Regions from separate parts of the Homo sapiens genome. Here region 1 is reported to be linked to region 2. Evidence: microRNA targets listed by miRTarBase, many of them from high-throughput screens and not tested one by one. Region 2 holds a microRNA gene; the other region holds the end of a gene's coding sequence.

Region 1 (7,102 bases), not on the chromosome of region 2:
GCAAAATATAGACCTATTTTTAGATCCTGTTTCAAACAAAATAACTATAAAAAGACAATTCCATAAGAAGAAAAAAATAAACCCAAAGCTAGCAAAAGGAAATAAAATATTAGAGTAGAAATAAACAAAAGAGAATAGAAAGATAGTAGGAAAAAAAAACAGTTGGTTTTTGAAAAAAAAATCAACAAAATTGAGAAACTTAACTAGATTTAAAAAAAAGAAGATATAAATAAATCAGAAATGAAGAGGGGACATTATAACTGATGACACAGAAATAAAGAATTGTAAGAGAATAGCATGAACAACTGTATGCCAACAAATTGGATAACCTAGAAGATATGGATAAATTTCTAGACACACCCAGCCCACCAAGACCGAATCATGAAGAAACAGAAAATCTATACAGACCAATAGCTATTAAAAAGATTGAATCAGTCATCAAAAACCTCAAAGAGGCCGGGTACGGTGGCTCCCGCCTGTAATCCCAGCACTTTGGGAGGGGGAAGCGGCCAGATCACTTGAGGTCAAGAGTTTGAGACCAGCCTGGCCAACATGGTGAAACCCCGTCTCTACTAAAAATACAAAAATTAGCCGGGTGTGGTGGCGCGTGCCTGTGGTCCTGGCTACTTGGGAGGCTGAGGAAGGAGAATCGCTTGAACCTGGGAGGTGGAGGTTGCAGTGACCCAAGATCATGCCTCTGCACTCCAGCCCCGGCGACAGAGCAAGACCATGTCTCAGCATGCGCGCACACACACACACACACACACACACACACACACACACACACACACACACACTCAAAGAAAAACCTAGAACCAGATGGCTTCACTGGAGAATTCTACCAAACATTTAAAGAAGAATTAATACCAATCCTCCTGAAACTATTACAAAAGTTGAAGAGGAGGAACATTTCTAAATTTATTCTATGAGACCAATATTATCCTAATACCAAAGCCAGACAAATACACTACAAGAAAACTACAGAACAATAATATTCCTGGTGAATATTGATGCAAAAATCCTCAACAAAATACTAGCAAACTGAATTCAACAGTACATTAAAAGGGTTATATACTATGATCAAGTGGGATTTATTCCTAAAATGCAAGAATGGTTTAACATATAAAAATCAATCAATATAATACACCAAATTAACAGATTGAAGGGCAAAAACCACATGATAATCTAAATTGAGGCAGAGAAAGCATGACAAGATTCAACACCCTTTCATGATTAAAAAAACCAACAACTCAACAAATGCAAAATAGAAGAAAACTACCTCCACATCATAAAGCCCACATGTGAAGAGCCCATAGCTAACATCATATTCAATAGTGAAAGACTGCAAGCTTTTCCTCTAAGATCAGGAAAAAGGCAAGATGTCTGTTTTTGCCACTTCTACTCAACATAGTTTTGGAAGTCCTAGTCAGAGCAACTAGGCAAGAAAGAAATAAAAGGCATTCAAATTAGAAAGGAGAAGTAAAATGATCGATTCACAGATGATATAATCTTAGATGTAGGAAACCCTAAAGACTACACACACACACACACACACACACACACACACACACACACACAAACTGTTAGAACTAATAAATGAATTCAGCAAAGTTGCAGGATACAAAAAGCAACATACCAAAATCAGTTGCTTCTCTATACACTAAAAATGAACAATCCTAAATGGAATTTCAAAAAATTCCATATATAAAAGCATCAAAAAGAATAAAATACTTAGAAATAGGCCTAACTAAGGTGAAAGACTACACTGAAAACTACAAAACACTGTTAAAAAGAAATTAAAGAAGACACAAACAAATGGAAAAAACATCCTATGTTCATGGAGTGGAAGGTTCATATTGTTAAGATGTTCATACTACCCAAAGTGATTCACAGATTCAACACAATCCCTATAAAAATCCCAATAGCATTTCTTGCAGAAATAGAAAAATTTATCCTAAAATTCATATGGAATCTCAACAGACACCAAATAGACTAAAGTCTTGAAAAAGAAGAGCAAAGTTGAAAGACTCATACCTCCTGATTTCAAAACATATTGCAAAGCTGTGGTAATCAGAATAGCATGGTAATGACATAAAGACAGACATAGAGCAATGAGAGGATAGAACACCAAGAAACAAACTCTTGTGTATATGGTCAAATGATTTTCAACAAAGATGCCAAGATCTCTTGATGTTAGAAAAGGACAATTTCTTCAGAAAACAGTGCTGGGAAAACTGGATATTCACAGGCAAGAGAATGAAGTTGGACCCTTATCTTATACCATACACAAAAATTAATTCAATATGGGTTAAAGACCTAAACGTAAGACCCAAAACTATAACACTCCTAGAAGAAAACATGGGGAAAAAAGCTACGTGATATTGAACTTGGCAATGATTTCTTGGATATGATGCCAAAATAAAAGCAAAAATAGAGAAATGGGCCTGCATTAAACTTTAAAACTCTGTGCATCAAAGGTCACAATCAGTGAAAAGGCAATGTACAGAACTGAAGAAAATATCTGCAAATTACGTATCTGATAAGGGGTTAATGTCCAGAATATATAAAGAACTCCTACATCTCCACAACAATAAATTAAATAACCTGATTTAAAGATAGGCAAAGGACTTGAATAGACATTTCTCCAAAGAAGGTATACAGGTGGCCAACAAGCCCATGAAAACATGCTCAACATGGATAAACAAAATGTGGCATGAAAATACAAGAGTATTACTGTAGTCCAGCCTTAAAAAGGACAGAAATCCAGTCACGTGCCACAACCTTAAGGTCATTATACTAACTGAAATAAGCCCGCCACAAAAAGACAAAAACTGCATGATTTCACTTATACGAGGTATCTAAAGCAGTCAAATTCATAGAAACAGAAAGTAGAATTGTGGTCACCAGGGGCTGGAGGAAGGGGGAAATGGAGCCTTGTTGCTCAATGGGTATATAGATTTGCAAGATGAAAAAGTTCTACAGATCAATTAGATCAATTTCACAACAATGTGAATATACCTAACACTGTTGAACTATTCACTTAAAAATGGTTAAGATCAACAACAACAAAAAGAACAAAAAAAATGGTTAAGATAGTAATTTTTTTGCCACAATAAAAAATATAGTTGAGATAATCAGGAAAAACTAAACACTAACTCTTCACACAGTTAACTGCATTTGAATTCTGTACTCATTTGTGACAGATACAGCTACTTAATACTCAGAGAGTGGAAAGAACACTTCTTTAAAGAGGTCAAAAATCTGGCTACTAGCCCCAAATCTCCTAACTAGCTATTAGATGATATTCAAGAATCACTGTTAATTTCATTGGATATGATAATGACACTATAGCTATGCTTTTTGAAAAAGGATTCATACTGAAGTAATTTTGGGGTAACATTATGTTTTCTATGATTTACCTTAATATACTCCAGCCAAAAAATAAAGAGTACAGGTGGGGCAGGGGTAGCTGAGAAAGGATGGCAGAGTGGTCTCGTCATGCTTGTTAAAGCTGGGAGAGAGGTACATGTACGAAAAGTTTAAAACAAACCAAACAAAACACGAGGGGAAGAAAAGCATGGATGGGTATTTGGAAGGAATGGCAGCAGGATCAATTTATTGAGATTTTGTGACAGCATCATATACTACAGACACTATTGCTGATTTTCAAAAAGCATTGCATTTCAATTTGCATCTAACAGATTAAAAATAAAGAAACAAATGAAATTGAAAGAATGATCAAGCTTCAAGTAACGTTTCTCACCACCTCCCCCGGCCACAAACAAACAAAAAGGTCCATGGTTTAAGAATGTTGAACAAAGGGACTAAAGGTGTCATGGAGACCTGCCCACCAGGGCCAGAATCTGGACAGTGATGGAGAAATTTCTGCTGCAAAAATGTCCGCCGCGTCAGGGAATACAAACCACATACGAGAGGGTGTTGATGTTGTTTCTCAGATACATAGGATGGACCTGTTTTCTTTCTGCTAATAGAAAGCAATCAGTCAAGCAAGGACTTCAGAGTGGATGAAGGGTACATAAGACCACACAATGATGGCATTCAAGAGAAAGAAAAGAGGTAAGGATGCAAAATTAAAAAAAAAATAGGACTTAATGAAAGCTAATTTCATCAAGCCCAGGTCACTGATGAGAAAGATGTAAAATCAAGAAACCAGTGAAATAACACGTAACAGGTGAGTCAAACATTACCAGCCGCATCAAACAGTGGAAGTGAAATGGCACCATCTAGCCCACCTGGTGAAATCCAAAGCGAGAACTTAAAGGGAGTAAGGATGATTCACAAAATGCGGTCGGGACACAAGAAAAGTGAGTTTGGAAGGACAGTGAAGAGAGAAAAAAGAATAAGGAAACCACCAAAATTTCAACTCAAAGATACATTTTAAACTGCATGGTATGGCCCACTGTCAATACCGTGGCTGCCTGGGAACAAAAAGGGTGGTCTCCAGATCCCCCAGAACCCCACTATACACCAGGAGGACAAGGAGGAAAGGAAGAAACCCCCTTTGCCTGCCAGAATGCACATGAGGGAAGGAAGGCAAACCCCTAGCAGTTGCTGCTTTGACACATCACCTGCCCCAGCAGCAGGCAGCTCGCTACCCACTCACATTCCCCAGGACTGGCTGCTCCATGAATCCTCTGGGCACCTGTGCCCAACAGAGTTCCTTAGCAAGCTCCACTGGAACGTTGAAAAATTAACATTGAGTGTTTACTGTGCACGCTGTGCCATGTGGAACTCATGCACAAGGCTTGATGGATCCCTCCTGACAAAACAATCTTGAGGTAGATACGATAATTATCCCCATTTTAGGGTTGATGGAAACCAAGGCTGAGTGAGGGAAAGTCACCCACCCAACGCTGCCCTATGAGTGAGCAGCAGGGTTAGCCTCTCCAGTCAGAGCGAGTGTCTTCACTCCCCATTGGAGGAAGACTTTCCATCACAAGCCTAAATCACCCAGCAGGAAACCAGCCCAGCCCTGTCTTCTCAGTGAGGCCTTTTCTAACACGGGTGCTTATCTCCATCTCAGGATCAAAGGATCTATTGCTTCTGGCAAAAGGGCAAAAGCACCGCTTTTACTGGGAGGTACAAGACCTGGTTTCTAGCCCCAAATCTCCTACATATCTTGTCATACTGCCTGTGCCCTATCTCTCTTTGCCTTGGTTTCCTTATCTCCAAATAGGGAAAAGCAGCCTGTCCCCAGTGAGCTCCCCGAAGGGTTGTATAAAATGAGACAAGGGAGGCAAAGCCCTCTGAATTCCTAAGCAGCCATGTTCTCACCATCACCGACCATGGCGCCCACCGTTCTTCTCCCCTGACCTTGCCCCCAAAGGCCCAGGAGCACAGACAGTTAAATAGCATCCCTCAAGGCCTGGAACAGGAGGAGCTTTGCATTCCAGTAGATTTTGCTGATGCCCTCAATAGAGGTGATCCTGATAGAATCAGAGGAAAAGAAAATATTCTTCTCTAGCAGCCAGAGGGCCCTTCCATCTTGCCTGTTCTCCCAAATTACCTGGCAACACTACCCCTTCCCCAGAAAGGCTCTGGATCAATGATTCTGGAAACCACTTAAGTCCTAAAGACAATTTTAAAACACCAGGAGAAAAATGCTCCTGCTCCTCCCCGCCCCACCTTCTAGAGGTATGCCTTTCTAGCAACCCCGAGGGGAGGTTCATCCCTGGGAGCTCTGCAGGAGAAGGTCCCCATTCCACATCATCTGGAAAATAGAGGGGAGTGCTAATATATGTGACCTTAGTGATCTCACAAGTGCATCAAAAAAAGCAACTGGCCAAGGAAATAGTTAAACCAGCCTGAACATGCCAGGCAGGCCCACCATAAGTCACTGTTTGAGTCAGGCTTGTGACCAAGGGTGTGTAGGCAAGGATGAGTGGGCAAGGCTGGAGGGGAAAAGCAGGCAAACCACTCTGAAGCAGGATGGAGGGTCGAGGACAAGGGCAGGGCAGAGGTGCACAGGGCAGGGCCAGTTCAGGGAGACCGCTGCAGGATGAGCTCTGTGATCTCGGCCCTGCTACCCAGCCTCATGGGTATCCCGTAGTAGGCTGTGCCTGGGCTGACATACACGAATGTAGCCTGGGCCACCTGGTAGAGACCAGCAAAGAAGGGATTCAGGAGATAGGCTGCTACGTTCAAGGGGAAGATCTGCCCAGCATGTGTGTGCCCAGAAAGGATCAGGTTAATATCTGGCCGAGCCTGGAGAGCTCTCTTGGCAGCCAGGGGCTGGTGAGCTAGCAAGATGATTGTGTGGTCTGGGCTGCAGCCCTCCAGGGCCTTGTCAAGATCCATGCCATGGCCAGAGTAGTGCAGGATGTCTGCTTCAATATCGTCCACCCCAGCCAAGCAGATCCAGTCCTCATCCTCACTCCCACTGCCACTGCCACCACCACCACGTTGGGCCCGTGTGGCGGAAATCTTCACGTTCTCATTATGAAGAGGCTGGACATGCAGGGATTCCAGAAGTGCAAACCAGTTGCTGACATCTGACGTGTAGTACTCATGATTGCCTGTGACGAAGTAGGCACCGAGATGTGAATGAAGCTGGCCCAGAGGAGCGACAGCCGTCCGCAGGACCGAGGCTTCTGAGTCGGAGAGGTCACCCACAATCACCGTGATGTCTGGTTCCAGCACATTCACCATCCTCACAAACATTTCCATCTTGGTCCTGCCCACTGTGGGGCCCAAGTGAATGTCTGAGAGGAGCACGATCTTGAGGTTGTTCATTGAGGCAGGCAGCTGATGGATGGGCACCTCCACAGTTTTCACAGCCGGGGGCTGCGCGGCATTCAGAATCCCGGCCACGCTGAGCACAGCAGTCACTCCCACTGCCAGGGCAGGCCTGAGCACGAGCTTCCTTGTCTTCTCAAGGCTGCCCACGACCCTACCACTGCGCCAGGCCAAGAGCTGGTAGGCCTGCTCCATGCCGCTGAGGATGAAGAGGAAGAAGAGCATGATGATGTAAGCACCCAGGCAGGAGTAGGCCGCCAAGGAAAAGAGATAGGGCTCTTCGGCCACTAAAAAGAACATGGTAAAGAAACTGGAATGGGCCAGGGCCAGAAATGCCAGAACCACC
Region 2 (7,118 bases):
ACATGTAAGTTAAAATAAATAGTAATAGCAAAACAAAATGAAATAAATCAAAGAGTACAAGTTTCTGTGTGCTCTGCACAACCTCTTATAAATTGGTGGCTTATAAAGGATTCAAATGCTTTTCAAAGAATGAGTACCTCTTCAGCCAATGAAGAAAAAAATGAGCTTTCATATTTGAGACAGAAAATATGTTGTCAGCAGGTTGGGATCTGAGTAGTAGGAGGGGATTTGGAAAGGCCTAAAAAGAAGGCTTGAAAACGAGGAGGAGGGAATAATAAATAATAACTTGTAAACTGATATAAGCATCAAGAAAGAAAAAGGTTCTGTAAAAACTTAATACTCTGCAGCAGAGAATAAAAACATAGCCACACTGAAAACCTGGTTTTCATTTTTGTCAGGCAACTTTGTAAAAATAGGTATCAATCCCAGGAAAAGATATCCCAGGAAAAAATAAAAACAAGAAAAGGCGTTTTTCCAGGACCTTTAGTTCCTAGGACTTACCTCTGCAAATTTACATAAGATGATTCCATGAGATAGTCCAGCAGGGTGGCGGAGGTGTGTGAACAGCATAGATGTACTCTATGGAAAACAGCTCTCTGCATGCAACTAATCTTCCCTCAAGTGCACCCATAGTTATATTACATATGCTGCATATGTCACGTGTTACACCACTCGTAGAGGTTTCAATCATATGTCATTACCATATGTGATTGCTACTCTCTCGAGTAAGGCCCCGCAGACAGCATGTCTAAGGATGGAAGCCCTGCTTAAACACCCATTCATGTACCTTTTAAAAAGCTACGCAATGTTTTCAGGCTGTGAGTGGCTACCAGTATTTGTTCAAAGTACCTCTACAGTGAACACTCCACTGTTTTTTTTCCTCATCCATTCTTCCCTGAAGTGCTGTCCACTTGTGTGTTGAAGTTTTCACATGGTAGTTTTCAGAACTGAGGAGCAATAAGCCTCTTTGTTTGGTTGTTTGAGACGGAGTCTCACTCTGTTGCCCAGGCTGGAATGTGGTGGTGCAATCTTGGCCCACAGCAACCTCCGCCTCCCAGGTTCAAGCAATTCTCCTGCCTCAGCCTCCCGAGTGGCTGGGATTACAGGTGCCCACCACCACACCCAGCTAATTTTTGTATTTTTAGTAGAGACGGGGTTTCACTATGTTGGCTAGGCTGGTGTCCAACTCCTGACCTCAAGTGATCTCCCGCCTTTGCCTCCCAAAGTGCTGGGATCATTAAGCCTTTCTCTTATGTTCTCTTGCATATATAAGACGTACCCCTGTGTGTCTTGTCCTGGTTTTTTTTATCCATTATTATATATAAAGCATTAACAAATCATTTGTCTTCTTTAGACCCAATAATTAAGCAGTAAATACACTCCATCTCACCACTCTTGCCTTGTCACCCAAAGATCTGAGTCCTTTTATCTGAGTTATGTTCCTCAATTTCTGAATCACAGAATGAGCAGATAAAAAAGACCAGATTGGCCAGGCGAAGTGGCTCATGCCTGTAATCCCAGCACTTTGGGAGGCCGAGGTGGGCGGATCACGTGGTCAGGAGATCGAGACCATCCTGGCTAACACGGTGAGACCCAGTCTCTACTAAAAATACAAAAAAATGAGCCGGGCGTGGTGGGGGGCACCTGTAGTCCCAGCTACTCAGGAAGCTGAGGCAGGAGAATGGTGTCAACCCAGGACATGGAGCTTGCAGTGAGCCGAGATCGTGCCACTGCACTCCAGCCTGGGTGACAGAGCGAGACTCGGTCTCAAAAAAAAAAAAAAAAAAAAAAATTAGTGTGATGGCAGCTACCTGTAGTCCCAGCTGCTGGGGAGGCTGAGGCAGGAGAATGGCATGAACCCAGGAGGTGGAGCTTGCAGTGAGCCAAGATCGCGCCACTGTACTCTAGCCTGGGTGACAGAGCAAGACTCCATCTCAAAAAAAATGAAAAAAAAAAAAAAAAAAAGACCAGATCAACTAAGTAAATAACAAGATAATAATCAGTAGGTTCAGTAGGTAGTGGAATGGAAGGAGTAAAAACTCATTTTTCTTTCCAGACTCCGTAATCGAAAAAGCTCATTTTACATACCAGCAGTGATCAACGAGACAGAAAATGGTCTTGGTATCTTGGGATGTTCTTATATTTCTTTTTGTTCCTGAGTTTTCTGAGCATTTTCCTGGAACAAGATAGTTTAAAGTTTTTTTTTTTTTTACACTTTTCCATTCAGTAACATAGCATGAGCATGGCCTCAGAAAGGTGAAACACCAGAGTCATACCAAAATATGCCTAATGGAAATAGCATTAGGACAGGAGAGAGAAAACCAGAAAAAAATAGTGTTGAAAGAAATAATGCTAAAAACTTCAAATTTCATAAAAAACATAAATGTACACATCAAAAAAGTGAGATAAGCATGAAGATATCCAGACTTAAAGACATTGTATTCAATCTGTTAATGGAGAGAGAGAGAGAGAAAGAGAATGTGTAAAAGAAAGAATACCTTTATAGCTGCAAGAGAAAGGGAGCATATTTCATACAAGTGATTCTTACAAGATTTAACACTGACTTCTTTTGAGAAACCATGGAAGCTGGAATCAGTTGTAGAACATATTCAAAATGCTGAAAGAAAAACACAGTTAACCATGAATCTCACATCTAAGTCTAAAAGTTGTTAGATACAGCATTAAAAGCATAATGCATACATTGAAAAACTGTTAAGTCGTACTTTATCAAAATTGAAAACATTTGCTCTGCACAAAATACTGTTGAAAATGAAAAAAACAAAACAGATTGAGAGATAATATATGTAAATCATAATTCTGGCCAAGAAATTGTATGCAGTATACCTATATATCTCTATCTATATGTATATAGTAAACCTCAAAGATAAGTGAACAACTCGGTAAAGGTGAGAAAAATCCCAAAGGCACTTCACCAAGGAAGATACATGAATGGTAAGTAAGTACATGTACAGGTGCTCAACATTTTCCGTCAGTAAGGTGATGCAAATTAAAACCACAACTGACAAGGGAACTATACACATATTAAAATTGCTAATAAAAACAAAACAAAGGCTTTTCAATACAAAATGCTGATAAGAAGTTGGGTAATTGGATCACTAATACATTGCTTAATGCAGCACAAAATGGTAAAACCATTCTGGAAATTATTTTTTAATTAATTTTAAATGTAAACTTACACTTGCCATGTGACCTTCAAATCCTACTAGTAGCAGTTTACACAAGGAAAATGAAACTTGTGTTCATATATACATCTGTATGCAAATATACAAAGTAGCTTTATTTTTAGCCATGAATAACTGGAATAAAACCTAGATGTCCACCTGTGACTTCTACCCTACTTGATTAAAAAAAAAAAAAAAACAGATTATTCTTGCTCTAATTCTGACTCTCATTCTCTCTCCTTTACCCATTTTCTGCTTCCATACACCCTCTCTCATCACTGAATGAGAAAGAAACAACATAAAGGAAGTAAATGAAAACCTAGAGATAAAAAATGTTTTTAAGTAAATGCAAAAAAATCAAACAATAAAAAATTCTCAGCATTATTCACAATTCCTGATATATGACTTACTAATAATAGATTAAAATATATTTACAAAAGAACGAATATGTACTTTATTAGCACATGAAGAAAGAGGACATTTTATATCTGAGATAGAATATATTTTGATTTTCAGAAGGTTAAGTGTTTAAGAAGCAGGAGGGAATTTTGGAAAGCTTAAGAAGACTTGAAAATGAGAAAGGAAGCTAACAGTTAACAGATTTGGATGTTGGAGTAGGCAATAGTTTCTGCAAAAAGAATAATACTCTTAAGGCAGAAAGAAACTGTAAAATGGCAAGATAAACCTTGGTTCAATCAGGCAACATCATAGAAATGGAAATCAATCTCAGAAGAACTCAATGGGAGGCTTGTTGCAAGGACCTTAAATTCCTAGATCACGTGTCTGGTGGTCAGGCACCTGAGAGAGTTTTCTGAGGTAGTCCAGCATGGAAGTGGAGGGTTTGTGAGGGTAAAATACCTGCACTGTAAGGAAAGCATCCCTCTGCATGCAACTAAATGCCTCCAACACACACACAGTGTCATCATGTATGTTGCACGTGTCATGCAGTACTCTACCCACAGACGTACCAATCATTTTTAATTATACATGATTGCCACTGTCTGCAGTAGGGTACCACACACAGCATGTCTGAGGATGGCAGCCTTGCCTTAATACCCACCCATTCACCTTTAAAACAACCATTCAATATTTACAAGCTGTGCGTGGCCATTGGAATTTGGACGAAGGACTTCTGCAGAATTCAATCCACTATCTTTCCTTATATTTCCCGCTTTGAGTCCTGTCCACTCCCACGTTGCATCTTTCACATGACAGTTTTCAGAACTGAGAAATATTAAACATTTCTGTTAGGTTCTGTTACTCACAGAAGAAATATCCTTGCATGTCTTATCCTGTTCCTTATAATAGATTAAAATGTATTTACAAAAGAACGAATATGTACTTTATTAGCACATGAAGAAAGAGGACTTTGTATATCTGAGATAGAAAATATTTTGATTTTCAGAAAAGTTAAGTGTTTAAGAAGCAGGAGAGAATTTTGGAAGGCTTAAGAAGACTTGAAAATGAGAAAGGAAGCTAACCATTAATAGATTTGGATGTTGGAGCAGGAAACAGTTTCTGCAAAATGAATAATACTCTTAAGGCGTAAAGAAACTGTATAATGGCACAATAAACCTTGATTCAATCAGGCAGCATCATAGAAATGGAAATCAATCTCAGAAAAACTCAATGGGAGGCTTGTTGCAAGGACCTTAAATTCCTAGACCATGTGTCTGATTAGGCACCTAAGAGAGTTTTTTGAGGTAGTCCAGCATGGAAGTGGAGGGTTTGTGAGGGTAAAATACCTGCACTATAGGGAAAGCATCCCTCTGCATGCAACTAAATGCCTCCAACACACACACAGTGTCATCATGTATGTTGCACGTGTCATGCAGTACTCTACCCACAGACGTACCAATCATTTTTAATTATACATGATTGCCACGTCTGCAGTAGGGTACCACACACAGCATGTCTGAGGATGGCAGCCTTGCCTTAATACCCACCCATTCACCTTTGAAACAACCATTCAATATTTACAACCTGTGAGTGACCATTGGAATTTGGACAAAGGACTTCTGTAGAATCCAATCCACTATCTTTCCTTATGTTTCCTGCTTTGAGTGCTGTCCACTCCCATGTTGCAGCTTTCACATGACAGTTTTCAGAACTGAGAAATATTAAACATTTCTGCTAGGTCCTGTTACTCACAGAAGAAATATCCTTGCATGTCTTATCCTGTTCCTTATAATAGATTAAAATATATTTACAAAAGAACGAATATGTACTTTATTAGCACATGAAGAAAGAGGACTTTGTATATCTGAGACAGAAAATATTTTGATTTTCAGAAAGTTAAGTGTTTAAGAAGCAGGAGGGAATTTTGGAAGGCTTAAGAAGACTTGAAAATTAGAAAGGAAGCTAACCGTTAATAGATTTGGATGTTGGAGAAGGAAATAGTTTCTGCAAAATGAATAATACTCTTAAGGCAGAAAGAAACTGTAAAATGGCAAGATAAACCTTGGTTCAATCAGGCAACATCATAGAAATGGAAGTCAATCTCAGAAGAACTCAATGGGAGGCTTGTTGCAAGGACCTTAAATTCCTAGATCACGTGTCTGGTGGTCAGGCACCTGAGAGAGTTTTCTGAGGTAGTCCAGCATGGAAGTGGAGGGTTTGTGAGGGTAAAATACCTGCACTGTAAGGAAAGCATCCCTCTGCATGCAACTAAATGCCTCCAACACACACACAGTGTCATCATGTATGTTGCATGTGTCATGCAGTACTCTACCCACAGACGTACCAATCATTTTTAATTATACATGATTGCCACTGTCTGCAGTAGGGTACCACACACAGCATGTCTGAGGATGGCAGCCTTGCCTTAATACCCACCCATTCACCTTTAAAACAGCCATTCAATATTTACAAGTTGTGGGTGGCCATTGGAATTTGGACAAAGGACTTCTGCAGAATCCAATCCACTATCTTTCCTTATGTTTCCTGCTTTGAGTGCTGTCCACTCCCATGTTGCAGCTTTCACGTGACAGTTTTCAGAACTGAGAAATATTAAACATTTCTGTTAGGTTCTGTTACTCACAGAAGAAATATCCTTGCATGTCTTATCCTGTTCCTTTTCACATTGCTACTTGCAAAGCATTAACTACCAGTTTGCATTCTCCATATCCATTAATTAAGTAGTAAATAATCCTCCATCTCATCAATCTCATATGATAAGGTTTGGCTCTGTGTCCCCACCTAAATTTCATCTTGTAGCTCCCATGATTCCCATATGCTGTGGGAGGGACCCAGTGGAAGATGATTGAATCATGGGGGCAGGTCTTTCCTCTGCTGTTCTCATAATAGTGACTAAGTCTCATGAGATCTGATGGTTTTAAATATGGGAGTTTTCCTGCACAAGCTCTCTATCTTTGCCTGTCGCCATCCATGTAAGATGTGACATGCTCCTCCTTGCCTTCTAACATGATTGTGAGGCTTCCCCAGCCACATGGAACTATGAATTCTCCATTAAACCTCTTTCCTTTGTAAATTGCCCAGTCTTGGGTACGTCTTTATCAGCAATGTGAAAATGGGCTAATACAGTAAATTGGTACCAGTAGAGTGGGACACTGCTGAAAAGATACCTGAAAATATGGAAGCGACTTTCGAACTGGGTAACAGGCACGGGATGAAACACTTTGGAGAGCTCAGAAGAAGACAGGAAAATGTAGGAAAGTTTGGAACTCCCTAGAGACTTGACTTGTTGAATGGCTTTGCCCAAAATGCTGATAATGATATGGACAATGAAATCCAGGTTAAGGTAGTCTCAGATGGAGATGAGGAACTTGTTAGAAACTGCAGCAAAGGTGACTCTTTATGTTTTAGCAAAGAGACTGGCAGCATCTTGCCCCTGCCCTAGAGATCTGTGGAACTTTGAACTTGAGAGAGATGATTTAGGGTACCTGGCAGAAGAAATTTCTAAGCAGCAAAGCATTC

Evidence for each region. Region 2 holds the annotated microRNA hsa-miR-509-3-5p (UACUGCAGACGUGGCAAUCAUG, at 5,056-5,077, opposite strand). A microRNA usually pairs through its seed, bases 2 to 8, with sites in the 3' UTR of a target mRNA and lowers its output. Matches are read on the target gene's strand: a 7mer-m8 pairs with bases 2 to 8, a 7mer-A1 pairs with bases 2 to 7 and ends in A, and an 8mer does both.
Region 1: miRTarBase lists TMPPE as a target of hsa-miR-509-3-5p. The part of its 3' UTR that is shown has no 7-base or 8-base seed match.

Annotation. Positions count from the first base shown.
Region 1 is chr3:33,086,834-33,093,935 of GRCh38, forward strand. It overlaps TMPPE (transmembrane protein with metallophosphoesterase domain), which reads right to left. Exons shown (of 2, transcript NM_001039770.3): 2 at 3,589-7,102. The coding sequence ends at 6,001. The region is part of intron 1 of GLB1 (galactosidase beta 1); the gene reads right to left. Among named protein-coding and RNA genes, the nearest start is that of GLB1, 6.8 kb to the right of the region's middle.
Region 2 is chrX:147,254,641-147,261,758 of GRCh38, forward strand. MIR509-3 (microRNA 509-3) reads right to left here and starts at 5,086; the gene lies at 5,012-5,086. It overlaps MIR509-2 (microRNA 509-2), which reads right to left and starts at 4,210; the gene lies at 4,120-4,210. MIR509-1 (microRNA 509-1) reads right to left here and starts at 5,985; the gene lies at 5,892-5,985. The region is part of intron 2 of LOC105373347 (periphilin-1); the gene reads left to right.